Linked DNA regions of Homo sapiens. The protein of the gene in region 2 purifies or fractionates together with the protein of the main gene of each other region. This does not show direct contact. Each region holds a gene or a part of one and is shown on either strand. Other genes may lie near its edges.

What was found.
Region 1: the proteins of SGK1 (region 2) and ARL5B purify together in Homo sapiens (affinity purification with mass spectrometry; 2 studies listed by BioGRID and IntAct, with this or other methods). This does not show direct contact.

What each region holds. Positions count from the first base shown.
Region 1 is NC_000010.11:18,676,335-18,682,327, reverse strand, and holds the end of ARL5B (ADP-ribosylation factor-like protein 5B), read right to left. Parts: 3' UTR 689-5,993; downstream 1-688.
Region 2 is NC_000006.12:134,308,025-134,315,308, reverse strand, and holds part of SGK1 (serine/threonine-protein kinase Sgk1), read left to right. Parts: intron 1-7,284. UniProt on the Homo sapiens protein: Serine/threonine-protein kinase which is involved in the regulation of a wide variety of ion channels, membrane transporters, cellular enzymes, transcription factors, neuronal excitability, cell growth, proliferation, survival, migration and apoptosis.

The DNA.
Region 1 (5,993 bases), on a different chromosome or scaffold from region 2:
ATTTTTCTACGTAGGCAACTTTTATCACATTCCCAAAGAGGTCTGTGAGCAAAAACGGTGGAGTTAAAACCACTTTAGAGGAATGTGAAGAATGAACATAGTGAAAATGTTATCCCACTCATTATTAGATCTCAATTTTATTTTATTTTTTACAAGGACACAACTTTGGTAGATGATCCCAATTATACCCCACAATGGAGTACACACCAATCCGGATCACCTTCCCAGGCCAGGGATTCCCCTTCTCTGGTAAATGCACCTTCCACTTGGCCAGTTGTTTAGATCAGAGAGAGGAAATGACCCAATGCAGGCTAATGAACAATTTCCCTGGGGAATATGGAATTGTAATTGAAAGTCTAACAATAATCTGACTTCTCCCTTGTACAAATTTAGGAGGCTACTGGACTTGGGACATTATCTGTTATGTGGATCAGGAAACAGAGAAATCCAGTCAGGTGAAAGACAGAAACAGATGAGCAGGAAAAAAGGTAACTTCCTGCTTGCTCCTAAATGGTCCAGTCTCTAGTCTCAGTCTGTTCTACAAATCCAGTTGTTCCGTGGGTTCTGTGAGCCTCCACCACCTCACCCCAATTATCCTCTCTTTGTTGGCATAGGTGGGTTTCTATTATTTGCAAGCAAATAACTTAAAGCAGATTTACCTTTAAAAGAAAACACTGGATTCACTTCGTATTGGAAAAGTAATTATTTATTATGACAAAAATAAAACTGTTGAATGAAAACAAATGAATGTTACACTATATTGCACCATGATTGGAAATGAGCCAAAACCTGTCTAAAAGATGAACATTCCAGAGCAAACAGCATCGTTTTACTTGGGTTAAGTAGGCATGCAAACAACTCATTATAACATAATTGCAGAAATAAAAATTATGAGTACTGGCAACCTAAACTTAACATATAAAAGAAGCACTTCATAACTAATAAAGTATTAAAAACTTTAAAACATGTCATTTAAACAATCCCACCATCAGGAAAACATGCTTTGAACCATTTTCAAGAAGTGATCATGTGAATGCATTAATTTACTTGTTTTAAATTTTTTGTTGTTGTTGTTAATGCTTATATATTGGACCAATGGAACACATTTGTTTGGCTGGGGTTCAGACACACAGTTTGTGGTGTGAAAGACATTTTTCTTTCCTCTGCACAATACCGGAGGACCCACAGAGCAATCCAATTCCTAATTCTGACCTTATTAATACCATCTTCCAGTTGACCAAGCATAGTAATGAAGATATTCTTAGAGCTTTCGCAGAAAGCCTGAAGCTTAAGGAGTAACAACAGTTTGTATTTAAATCTTAAGAAATGCACATATATATGAATATAGACACTTTAAAGTTGTTTTGCATTCTGAGGCAAGAAATAATAAATACTGAGTACAGGGCCTGCTGCTTCCTCTTTAATGCTCTAAAGCACCAATTTATGTTAAAATAGCAAAGTGTGATTATAATCATTCACTCTGATTAGAATAAACGCAACACCAAGGTTGTAATTGCTGTTAGGTTTTTGTTGTTGTTGTTTTTAACATGCTCTGTGGAATAGATGAACATGGTAAAATTTGTAACTATTCTGTAATTGAAAAAAATCATGACCGTTTTATTTTACACTTTCACTGAAATAGCAGCTAAACTTTTTTTAAGTCATAAATAAAAGTTTTTGTAACTACACTCAACAGTTTACTCCAAGAGAATAAAATAGGGGCTTCAGAGTCCCTAAATTTCCTGAGGGAAAATATAAGATTAAAATGATTATGGTCTCTTGTGAATAGGGCTTAAATATGCAAATAAGTCACTGATGACTGGGATCAACTGATAGTCATTTGATATCTTACCAACACTGATGGAAATATATTCACAGTATAAAAGAATCCATCAAATTTAGGATTTCTCCTTTCCCTTATCTAATTAAACTAATTAAATATTGACTGAGCACTTTCCTATGTGCTTTAATGAAACCATATGTGAATCTCATATATCTACCATGTTGGCCCAGCTGGTAAACAAGAGTAAAACAAAACAAAGTCTCCAAGGAATGCTATCCCTTAGTTATGAATTTTGCATATTTCAAATACAGTTTGGGTGAAGGGGGTTTTTATGGGATGGTACAAACATCCCACAAACTTGAGCAAAGCACCTTATGGATTGAAAAATGAGGTAATTTTTTAATTAAAATTTTACAAGTTGTGCAAGAAAACATATCCATTCTTTTAAAACTTTGTTTTCTATTCCAAAAGCTATGCACAGCACATTTCATATTTCTCCATTTCCAGGAGAAAATGTAGATTACTGGTTTAAGAAATGCAAAAGATGCCTTTATGTGACTACAGTTCCAAATTCTAAAACCCTAATCAGTCTTCACTCCTTTGGCCACATTAAGAATAATACAGGCCATCTAGCTGTATGGTAAAAAGACAGTATTTTTTAGTAATTTTAAGTACCCTAAATACGAGGAGAGGCAGAAATTCACTGCTTTCATTCACATTTTCTCTTACCTAATATCCTTTTGAAGTTTTTTCGACCTCATGATATTGTCTTTACTTTCAAGTGCTTTGAATTTGTTTTTCGTATGCTTCTAAACCTCCAAATTAATATTTCCCAAATGTTTCACCAAACTATATACATTTAAAGCTGCCTTTAGGTCTGAGGGGCACAATTTTTTTTTCTGCTTTAAATTTAAAATGGAATAGTTGAACATATTTTTTTATATTGGTCTTCCTCTATTTATTTTGGTCCCCTAAAATTTTTTAAAAATACTTTTTTGGGGAACCTGGCTTTTGGATTTCAGTCTTCACAGTAAAAGTGAATGAATAAGGAGGAGACGCTACTGAAAAACTAACCTTGAATATAAACCACTTTCAGATTTATGTAGACATTTATGTAGACATTTGTAAAAGACTGACAACCTGGCTACTAACCCTACTCTTTCAATATGGAAAGTCACACAGAACTATAGACTGGGGTGGCATCAAACGGCAATAAACTCTGAACAAATTAACCACTTCCATTCAATTAGTACAAGCCAAGAAAATAAGGTAAATTATCTAGAAGAGAATTATTTCCAACACAGGCTGGTTCTTTCTAAGCAGCTTACTATCCTTTTCTTAGCAATATGGCTTGTTTTCTCTTTTGCATTGTCATTAGCTATTTCTATTCAGCTATTAATTCGCTGAATTTAAGTTGAATAGCAGTTACTGATACGTTTTTCCCTACTTGGTTGTATTCGTATTCTAAATAAAATAACAGGTGGGAATCAAATAATGGATAAAAATACATTTAATTTCATATTACCTGTATTGCCCTACTATTTGAGGGATTTTTAATTTTTAATAGTAGTATATAAGCATTCAGAATTTTAAAACCAAAAGACATTTTAGAGCTGTAGTTTAAGTTCCTCAGTATGGGAAAAACAAAAGGAAAGCCATGGACACTAATTGTCTAAGGTCAACTAGACAATTGAGAAACGGCCAAATTAAGGCTCAAATCCACTTTTTTAGATGGCTAGCACAATATTCTACTAGATACAAGACACCATGCTGTATCTTGAAGTCACTTTACCCCGGCAAAATGTAAAATAGCCTTTAGGACTGAATTAGAGTGAAGTTTTTTTGGTTCCAAAGCTGTAGACAAAAAGTCTGCCTCATAAAGTTGGTCTCCAAAGATAAATTCCAAAGAAATTTATCCATCTTTAGACACGACACCAGCACATTTTTCTACTGATACGGTTTTACATAGTTAAGGACTAAATAAAAATTGATTATTCAGAATGATTATGTTTATAATTTGTTCTAAGAAACTACACTAAAAAGATTTTTTAAAAAAGCTTCTATATTCTTTAAAATTTTCTTTGTGACCCCCACAACTTTTCAGAGAATATTGTTTACAGCACTGCCTATCACTGTTTCCATACTAAAATAATTATTTTCTCTTTATGCTATAATGAAAGTTAAATTATGCTTAATCAAAATGACTATGGCTATGGGGTGGCACTCATTTAAAATTTTTCAGCAATGAAACTTAAATTTATTACCTTTCTTCTAATGAATATAGAATAAAAGTATTGATACCTTTAAGCATACTAACACAAGAAACTAAAAGCAAAAATTACATATTTAATCTTCAGCTTTTAATAGATTATATATATTAATATTCCAGGTTTTAAGGAATTAAGTTACATTAACAATAAAAAATATTCCATATATTCCCTTATAAAAGGTTCTATTAATTCTAAGAGTTCTCAAATGGGCTTCAATAAGAATGATGGGTTTAAAGATGAAGGACATGACACGCTCAAAATTAAGAAAAATGCTGTATTTGAACTTGCAAGGATAATTGAACACTTTGGTTATAACATACTTAAAAGATTTCTGTTAAAATTTAATTTCCTTGTTTTCAAATTAAAAGGTAGAACAGTCTCCTGAAGGTAATGTAGGTGGGTCCCTTGCTTTTCACTTACTATAAACTGTGCTAACCAATACATGGAGGTGAAGGGGGATATAAAACACAAATTATTTCATCACTGAAATAATTAGCTGCTAACATGACTTCTAAAGAACAGGTATAATATAAAACTAAGAACTTATTTCAAAATATGAATAAAGGCACTAATTACAAATGTACATTTTTTAGACAGTATCTTACAGTTCACTGATTTACAATGAATGTCAGAACCAATGCTCTAGTATTAGATACTTGCTTGGGTTAAAACATTCTCTTGGAGTAAAGAATAATCAGTTTTCACGTTACTGTGACAGGAAAGATTGAGTGAAAACCTAAAAAATACTCTTAAAAAGTCTTACATGAATTTCCTAATCATGAACTTTTCCCAATCAGCACCGTCTACACTGATGCCAATTTCATCTTCAACACATGGCTAACATAAATCATTTCTAATCCAAAACTAACCAAATATTTTTTAAAGGATTTACAAAATAAATTGTATTTTAAAAATTAAATAGCAAATTTGAGTCTATACTAGTAGTTGGCAAAATACAATCAACTATTAAAAACACTTTTAATATAATGCTGATGTGGTAATATAAAAAATAACCATATAATTTGACAGAAGAAAATTGAGCCAGCCAATCTTACTAGATACAAGAAGGCAGATAGTCATTTCATAAGAACAAATACAGGAGTACTAAGTATGCTTTTTCTCAGGACAGACTTAGGGAAACTACCCTCAGTACTTACGGTAAACAACACAACCAAGCAGAAATTCAGGCAAACTGTGCTTAGGTAAATGGCATTTTCTTAATTCCCCCACATCCCACACACACCACAAACCATCCATATCGATTTATGTCTGCTTTTCGCTCATGTTCTTGATTATGGGTTATATTAAAAACTAAGTTAAACTACACTTATCCTCTACTTGATACAGAATCACTAAGAAAACGGCTTAAAACAAAGTTAAACAACTACTTTCCAAAGCCCAGAAAGCTTTCCTTTGGCCACTGTTCAGTTCAAGGGTGTGCTCCAACTAAAGATAAATCAGAAAAATGTTACCACATTCGACTAAATTAACTTGACTAAATATAATAAACCAAGCACACCTGAAAAAAGAGCAAAATTTAAATCAACTTACAAAAATATTAAAATTAAAATACCAATTTTGAACACATATTTTGATATTATGAACTTTGTATCTTTTTTATCAAAATTAAAAAGTACTGCAAAAATGAAGTATTATTCTCTAAGTATTCATTTTATCCCTTTCATTTCAGCAAAATCACACATTTGAATAAACAGGATCGAAATACGACACTTGTCTTTCCTCTTAATTTAAGGAATATATTGTTTAGATTATTGTTCATATTAGACAACTGCCTCAAAAATGTTTTAATGCCATCCAATAAATAAACTTTTGATAGATTATGACTTTTTTTAATTTTAAGTTGTTAAGAATATTAACTTTGAGTCTCCTATTAATATTCTAAAAGCTAGGATTCAATTCAGCAGTTTCCTATAACATTT
Region 2 (7,284 bases):
CCTGCGCTCTCCTTACTCCTCAAGGACAGTTAACTAAGTAGAAGGTGACCTTGTATCAAGTCATTGAATGCCCCAGGGATAAATTCTTTGATTTTTGTCTACTTTGGTTTATTCCACAAATTCTGTATTCTAAATGTTTATTTCTGCTTGTACATGACTTTGCTTTTTTTGTTTGTTTGTTTTTAGTTAAACAATATGTAAATACATCTATAAAACATTAAAACAATAATAAGGTATATCCCACCTCCTCTCCAATCTTTCTCCCTTTCCCAGATGTAGTAACTGTTACCATACTGATGTTTATACTTTCCAAACTTTTACTTCACATACACATTCATATACTACAATGCCTTTGTTTGCAGTTCAGAATAATTCATTTTCTTATATTCTATTGTTGAAGTTCCACACATTTCTGCATATTTTATTTTTAACCTAGCTAGACAGTCTTACAAAGTGAACCTTTGTCCATAGCCCACATTAAACTATGAATAGATTTTGGAAAAAAAAAAAAAAAAACCATAGGGTCTATTAGGGCTAATTAAAAAGAATGATTTTTGATTGCAGGAGGCTTAAACAGTGCTTCCTATGCTTCTGAGACATTCCAGAGGGAGCATAAGAAACTGAAGGAGAATATAGGTTATCTGCCCTTGTAGCTGTCTGTCAGTCACTATTTATTAGAGCTGACTATGTTCTGGGTAGGAATGCTTTACATGTATTAGCTCATTTAATATTCACAGTAACCCTATAAGGTAAGAAACATTATTAAATGTGCAAAGTGTGACTTAGAGAGATTAAACCATTCGCCCAAGGTCACATAACTAAAAAGTAGCAGAGCTAAAATTTAAACCTTGTTCAACTCAAAGCTTGTATACGTAATCCAGACTTTTTGATTTCAGACCACTCTCCCCTTCTTTTCTTTTAGTTTCCACAACAGACTCTTCTGTCCCCCTACCCCCCTCCCCCAACCAAGTGAAATCTTTATGCCACTACCAAAAACCTATAAAAGCGGCCAAGCCTCTTCCAGCTCCTTTCTAGTCCTTAATACTGACAGTAATGAGAGGCTGCCCTGGGGAACCCAGATTCTAGGAACATAATCTGAAGAAAGACAGTCCGGATGCTAGTTCTACAAAATCCTTTGGATTTATGCTTCTCATCCTCATATTTTAAAAGCTCAACTAAAGCAGCTTAATTTCATTTAGCAGAGAATTGCTGAACTAAACTGGATAAGAGTTCTACTTTCATTCTTTAAGTGTTCATGATAAATTAGCATTAGATGTATATGGATTATATTTTACTCTTAAGAGTCTCCAAAAATTCATTTAAGATGAATGGAAAAATGTCCTTATCAGTTTTATTCTCCCAATCCAAGAGTTTTAAAAGTTGTCAGTCCAGCTAAAGGTAATCCATTTTCATGGATTTAAAGATTTGTTCTGTTTGTGGCTCAGATTCTTACATAATGATTTAGAAAACGCAAACAAATGACATTGTCTCCAACTCGATAATCCTTTTTGGAAATACACAAGGTATGTGAAAAAAACTTCCATAGCCATGATTACATTACCTTTTGTAAAATTCGAAAGGCTATCTAACGCTGCAGAATTTTGGATGTGGAATGAACCTCAGAAATTCTCCCTCTGACTTCCCTCTTTCAAAGATGAGGAAACTGAGTACCTGTGGTAAATCACCTGTCAAATTAGAATGAGGTTAAGCCAGGACTCATGTTTTGGGTTTTCACTTCCAGATCTCGTGTGCTTTCCTTTTTGCTAAGTTCTCAACATCAAACTAGTCAAGTCTTTCATGCCTCATTCATTCATTTTTCAACAAATAGAGTAGGAACAAAATAACCATGTTTTATCTTCATGAAACTAACGGCATAGTGACTACCAACTTTGACAAGACCGTTCCATTTTGACTCTGTATTTTTGTTGTTGTTATTTTTGTTTGTTTGTTTGGTTGGTTGGTTGTTTGCAGAGACAAGGTCTCACTATGTTGCCCTGGCTGGTCTCGAGTTTCTGGGCTCAAGGGAGCGTCCCAAAGTGTTGACATTTCAGGTGTGAGCCACCCACTGTGCCCAGCCTTGACTCTCTATTTTATGATTATATGCATTTGAACAATTCCTTGCATTATTCTTTAATAACAGTAGCTTTTCTAATAACTATGACTTAAATGGCATTAATATTGCTGGGCATGGTTCTAAGAGCTTTAAGTACATTACACATTTAAATCATCATACACAGGCTGGGCGCGTTGGCTCACGCCTGTAATGCCAGAACTTTGGGAGGGTTAGGCAGGCAGATCACTTAAAGTCAGGAGTTCGAGACCAACCTGGCCAACGTGGTGAAACCCTGTCTCTACTAAAAATACAAAAATGAACCAGGTGTGATGGCAGGCGCCCATAATCCCAGCTACTCAGGAGGCTGAAGCAGGAGAATCGCTTGAACCAGGGAGGCGGAGGTTGTAGTGAGCTGAGGTCTCGCCACTGCACTCCAGCTGGGATGACAGAGTGAGACTCCATCTCAAGGAAAAAAAAAAATTATCATATATAAAAATACCTGAGATAGGTACTTTTATTATTGTGATTTCATAGATGAAGAAACTGAGGTGTACAGAAGTTGAAGAACTTGCCCCAAGTCACATAGCTAGTTAGTGACAGGATCAGGGTTTGGATCCCAGCACCAGGCTCCAGAGTCTGTGTCCTTAATCTCTATACATCCCGAATGCCTGTCAACATTAAATAATCCAGGGTGAAGTTCAGAGAAGTGAAATGATATGACTTCTCTGGCCTCCTCCTTTCTCTAATAACTGCAGGAACAAAGGAAAGGTTTTTAGTCTGGTTACAATGTTTACTCTAGCAGAGCTGAGAAGTTAAATTAAGCTCCTCTGAAGTGCTTATTCTTCACAACTATTTCATAAACAGCATCCCTTTACATTTGTTTTCCTTTTACTGTTCTATTTTGCCTGCTTAAAGTATCCAAATTGGAATAACAAAGGCCCTTTTCTTATGGGAAACTTTCGATGTCTTCTCAGAGGGATAACATTATTGAGCAGCACCGTTCAAAGCACTTTACTCAGGTAACTCTCACAATCCTTCATTATGCCCATTTTATAGCCAAGGAAACTGAGGGTCAGAGGTTAACTGATTTGTTAAAAATCGTAGACCTAGGAAGAGGTATAGCCAGAATTCAAATTCAGGTAGTTCGTTTACCAGCAGCAGTCTTTCCATTTGCGTCACTGGAGTGCACTGCGATGATGCCAATACTGTTGCAGGATTGGCTCTACTGAATTGGAAACTACTTGTGAAGACAACCCAAAGAGGTGTTTTGTTGTTGTTGTTGTTGATGTTGTTATAGCCTTAGCTATGAAGAGGTAGATTCTCCAAGTCACTACTGAGAGCGGTAGGAATGCTTTCTAACAAATCTGAAGTCTGCTTTAGATTTTTTCAAGATATGTTTGATCATGCTTCCCGGAACACGGCGGAGACTCCAGTGGCTGCTACTGTGCTTTCTTCGGAATGGCTAAAATCTAAGCTGTTTGAGTTCCTCTTGAGCCTGCGCCCACAACACAGCACATGGTCCCAGTGACACTGCATTGTTACATTAGTACTGCTTATTCCTCTGTAGCTCCCACAGGGCAGGAAGGTTTTTTGTTTTGTTGTTTTTTCATACAGTCTCACTCTGTCACCCAGGCTGGAGTGCAGTGGCACCATCTCATCTCACTGCAACCTCTGGCTCCTAGGTTCAAGCAATTCTCCTGCCTCAGCCTCCTGAGTAGCAGGGATTACAGGTGTGCACCACCATGCACAGCTAATTTTTTTGTATTTTTTTTTTTAGTAGAGACAGGGTTTCACCATGTTGGCCAGGCTGGTTTCCAACTCCTGACCTCAGGTGATCCACAAGCCTTGGCCTCCCAAAGTGCTGGGATTACAAGCATGAGCCACCACAACTGGCTGGAAGGTCTTTAAGGACAGAAAACCAGTTACCTTGTTCACTGTATCCCCTACTTGTCAAAACATATTTGTTGAATAAAAGAATGCATAAAATAAAAGAACAAATCCTTCTATTACTTGCCCCTAAGTCATTGCCCTCTTCTCCTTCCTCCTCCGTCTTCCTTTAAACAGGCTTTGGTGGCTCAGAAATCTAATGCATTTTATTTCTCTCTATGTTTAGATATGGATTAGATATAAATTAAGACTGAAATGTAACCTAAATCTGGCTCAAAGACAAGCTGTCACTTCCCCTTCAGAGCTGGTGGGTACTTAGGGAAGCTTGACCTCAGCTTATTTGCTGATCCAATGCCCATAACACACCTTCTCTTCTATGATACTTTTCTTGTCAGGCCAAACAAGACAGACGTAGCAGTGATTCACTAATCTCCTTTTATTTTGCATTAATATGAATTACTAACTTCAGTAATATATAGTAGGCTGGGCACAGTGGCTCACACCTTTAATCCCAGCATTTTGGGAGGCCAAGGCAGGCAGATCACCTGAGGTCAGGAGTTTGAGGCCAGCCTGGCCAACATGGTGAAATCCCGTCTCTACTAAAAATACAAAAATTAGCTGGGAGTGGTGGTGGGCACCTGTAATCCCAGCTTCTCAGGAGGCCTAGGCAGGAGAGTCACTTGAACCTGGGAGGCGGAGGTGGCAGTGAGCCAAGATCACGCCATTGTACTCCAGGCTGGATAACACAGTGAGACAGCATCTCAAAAAACAAACAAACAAACAAAAACTATATAGTATCTGCATTATGTATCCTCCCAACTAGAATCCTAAAAATGTCTTTCAATTATTACTTATCCTCACTTTTCAGCATGGTCTTAGGAGCCACAGAGTGTGAGTAAGACGGATGCCTTTGGCACTTTGACCACTAAGTCTTAGAGAGTTTGGATGAGGGAGTTCAGCAGTCTAGGTTTGGCAGTGCTGGGGAATTAGTCTCAGTACTGCAGAATGTGGATGATGAGCCATTTTCGTTAGATAGATATTTTGCCTCCCCAGCAGCTCTCAAGAAAATCCTGAGATAGGCTCTTAGCTACAGTGCTTGGGAGGGATTTTGAATGGAAAGTGTAGCTGAGTTCCTTGAAATTCTGCACCATTTTTTAAAGGGCTGGTGCTGAAATGCGGGTGCCATATGTAACACTGGAGTAAGAGATATTCTGAGCTCACCCATATTTTATGATCTGTAAGTGCTTAACAAGGTAAAGCAAAACCAAAATGAGGGGGCAGGAGTGAGGAACGTGGGGGGTGGAGCCATCAAAATGCATGTTGGAGATTTCCGAATATGAAAGCATAAAGGCAGGAACAGTAATGGGAATTGGATCAATAGAAAAGTTTAATTAGTAATTTAGGTCAAGCTAAAGATAGTTCGCTAGAGCAAATATTGTAGAAGCATATTTTTAAAGTGTGATTTTTTTTTACATACTAGTTAATTTTTTTTAGAAATAAGTCCAAAAATAAAGGTAAATATCAACATTCCTAACATTGGCAGAAAAGACTCCTGACTTATGAGTGGGATGCTGTTTCCTGCCTGCTAAGGAAAGCTAGGATTCCTAGCTTGTCAGCTTGTTTGAGCGTGAAATCATTGGCTCCTCACCAACCTGGGGATGAAGATTTTTATCCATTCTATGGGGCTCAAGAAAGTTCAGCTCGCAGGGTAAAAAGAGTCTTCGAAGAGCTTTAACTGAAGGGATACGCAGTGTCTCTATAGAGATCCACATCCTCTGTAATGGGAAAGCAGGTGGTTCTGGACCTCACTCTCAGTGAATCCTTCTGGCCCAGAAATGAGGACAGCAGCAGTGACCTACCCTGGTCCTTGGTCTAAGAGCAGGCTTACCCAGCAAGTGGCCAGGTTTCTCTGGCAAACTGCACAGTGATGCTGGCAAATTTATAAAAGACCATGTGGGAAAGTGGAGGAGAAGGAGGTGGAGGAGGTGAAGGAGGTGCAGGAGGAGGAGGACAGGAAAAGCAGACAGTAAGGCAAGTTCGGTGCTGCGTTGGCCTCCTCCTGCAGCTGCCATGGCATGTGGAGAAAGGATTATTATTATAGTTTGTTTACTCTCACATCTATTTCTCTGCAGCATTCTGAAATGACATTGTAAGTATTTACAACAAAGGGAAATGAAAATCAAAGATGTAACTAGAGCAGTAGAGGAATCTTCTATTTGGTAGTTCGAGGTGCCAAAATATTACTCTAATTGCTTTCTAGAGCCTGCTGTGACGTTTTTCGGAGAAGAATTCACTTAGCTACTTCTGTAACATTAGGGTAACCTTGGCCTCTTTTTCCCTCCTAGGTCAGGGCATTCACCCAAAACGCCATTTGCTTCGGGAAATGACTGGTCATGTGGTTCTTCCACTTTCTCTCTCCTGTCTCTCTCTCTTTCTCTCTCTCTGTTGTCTCTGGAGGATAAGCTCACAGCAAGGCAAAAGAGAAAAGCATGAAGTGAAATATTCCTAGGCTTGCCGGGCACGGTAGCAAACGCCTGTAATCCTAGCACTTTGGAAGGCTGAGGCGGGTGGATCACCTGAGGTCAGGAGTTTGAGACCAGCCTGGCCAACACGGTGAAATCTTGTCTCTACTAAAAATACAAAAATTAGCAGGGTGTGGTGGCGTGCACCTGTAATCCCAGCTACTCAGGAGGCTGAGGCAGGAGGATCACTTGAACCCGGGGGGTGGAGGTTGCAGTGAGCTGAGAGGGCACCACTTCACGCCAGGCTGGGTGACAGAGAGAGACTCTGTCTCAAAAAAAAGAGAAGAAACATTCCTAGGATTGTGCCCATAGAAAACAAAGGATTCTCGTTCTAACCCAGTGGCTTAAGGAACATCTTGCTATCTCTGAGTTTGTTAGAGTGACATCAGCCAGTTTGAAAGACCTTGGTAGCTCAAAGATTTTAGTCTCTAGAAATAGCAAGGTGAAAAAAGAAAAGTCCCCCAAATTGTTAAAACATATTTAGACTCAAGTCCCTGTAGGACAAAAATTAAAATATGCCAGAGGGGAAAAATGAAAGTTAATAGTTTGAGAATTAAAAATAAATCGGAATATGTATTTATAATGTTTATTACTCAGAAATGTGATCTTTCCCATAGAATGATCTTTCCGAAAGCAGCTGAATTTTCTTTGAACTCTGAATCTTTCTGGGCCAGTATTTATTTAGGTTGTACTGTAAAAAAAATTACAGGAAAAAAACGATGAGTACATAGCTTCCGGTGTGGTTTAAAAGATTGGGGTAAGGCTGTGGAGGGGTAGTATAAAAATAAAGACATTAAAAAAGAATCCTCTTCACAGCCTCAC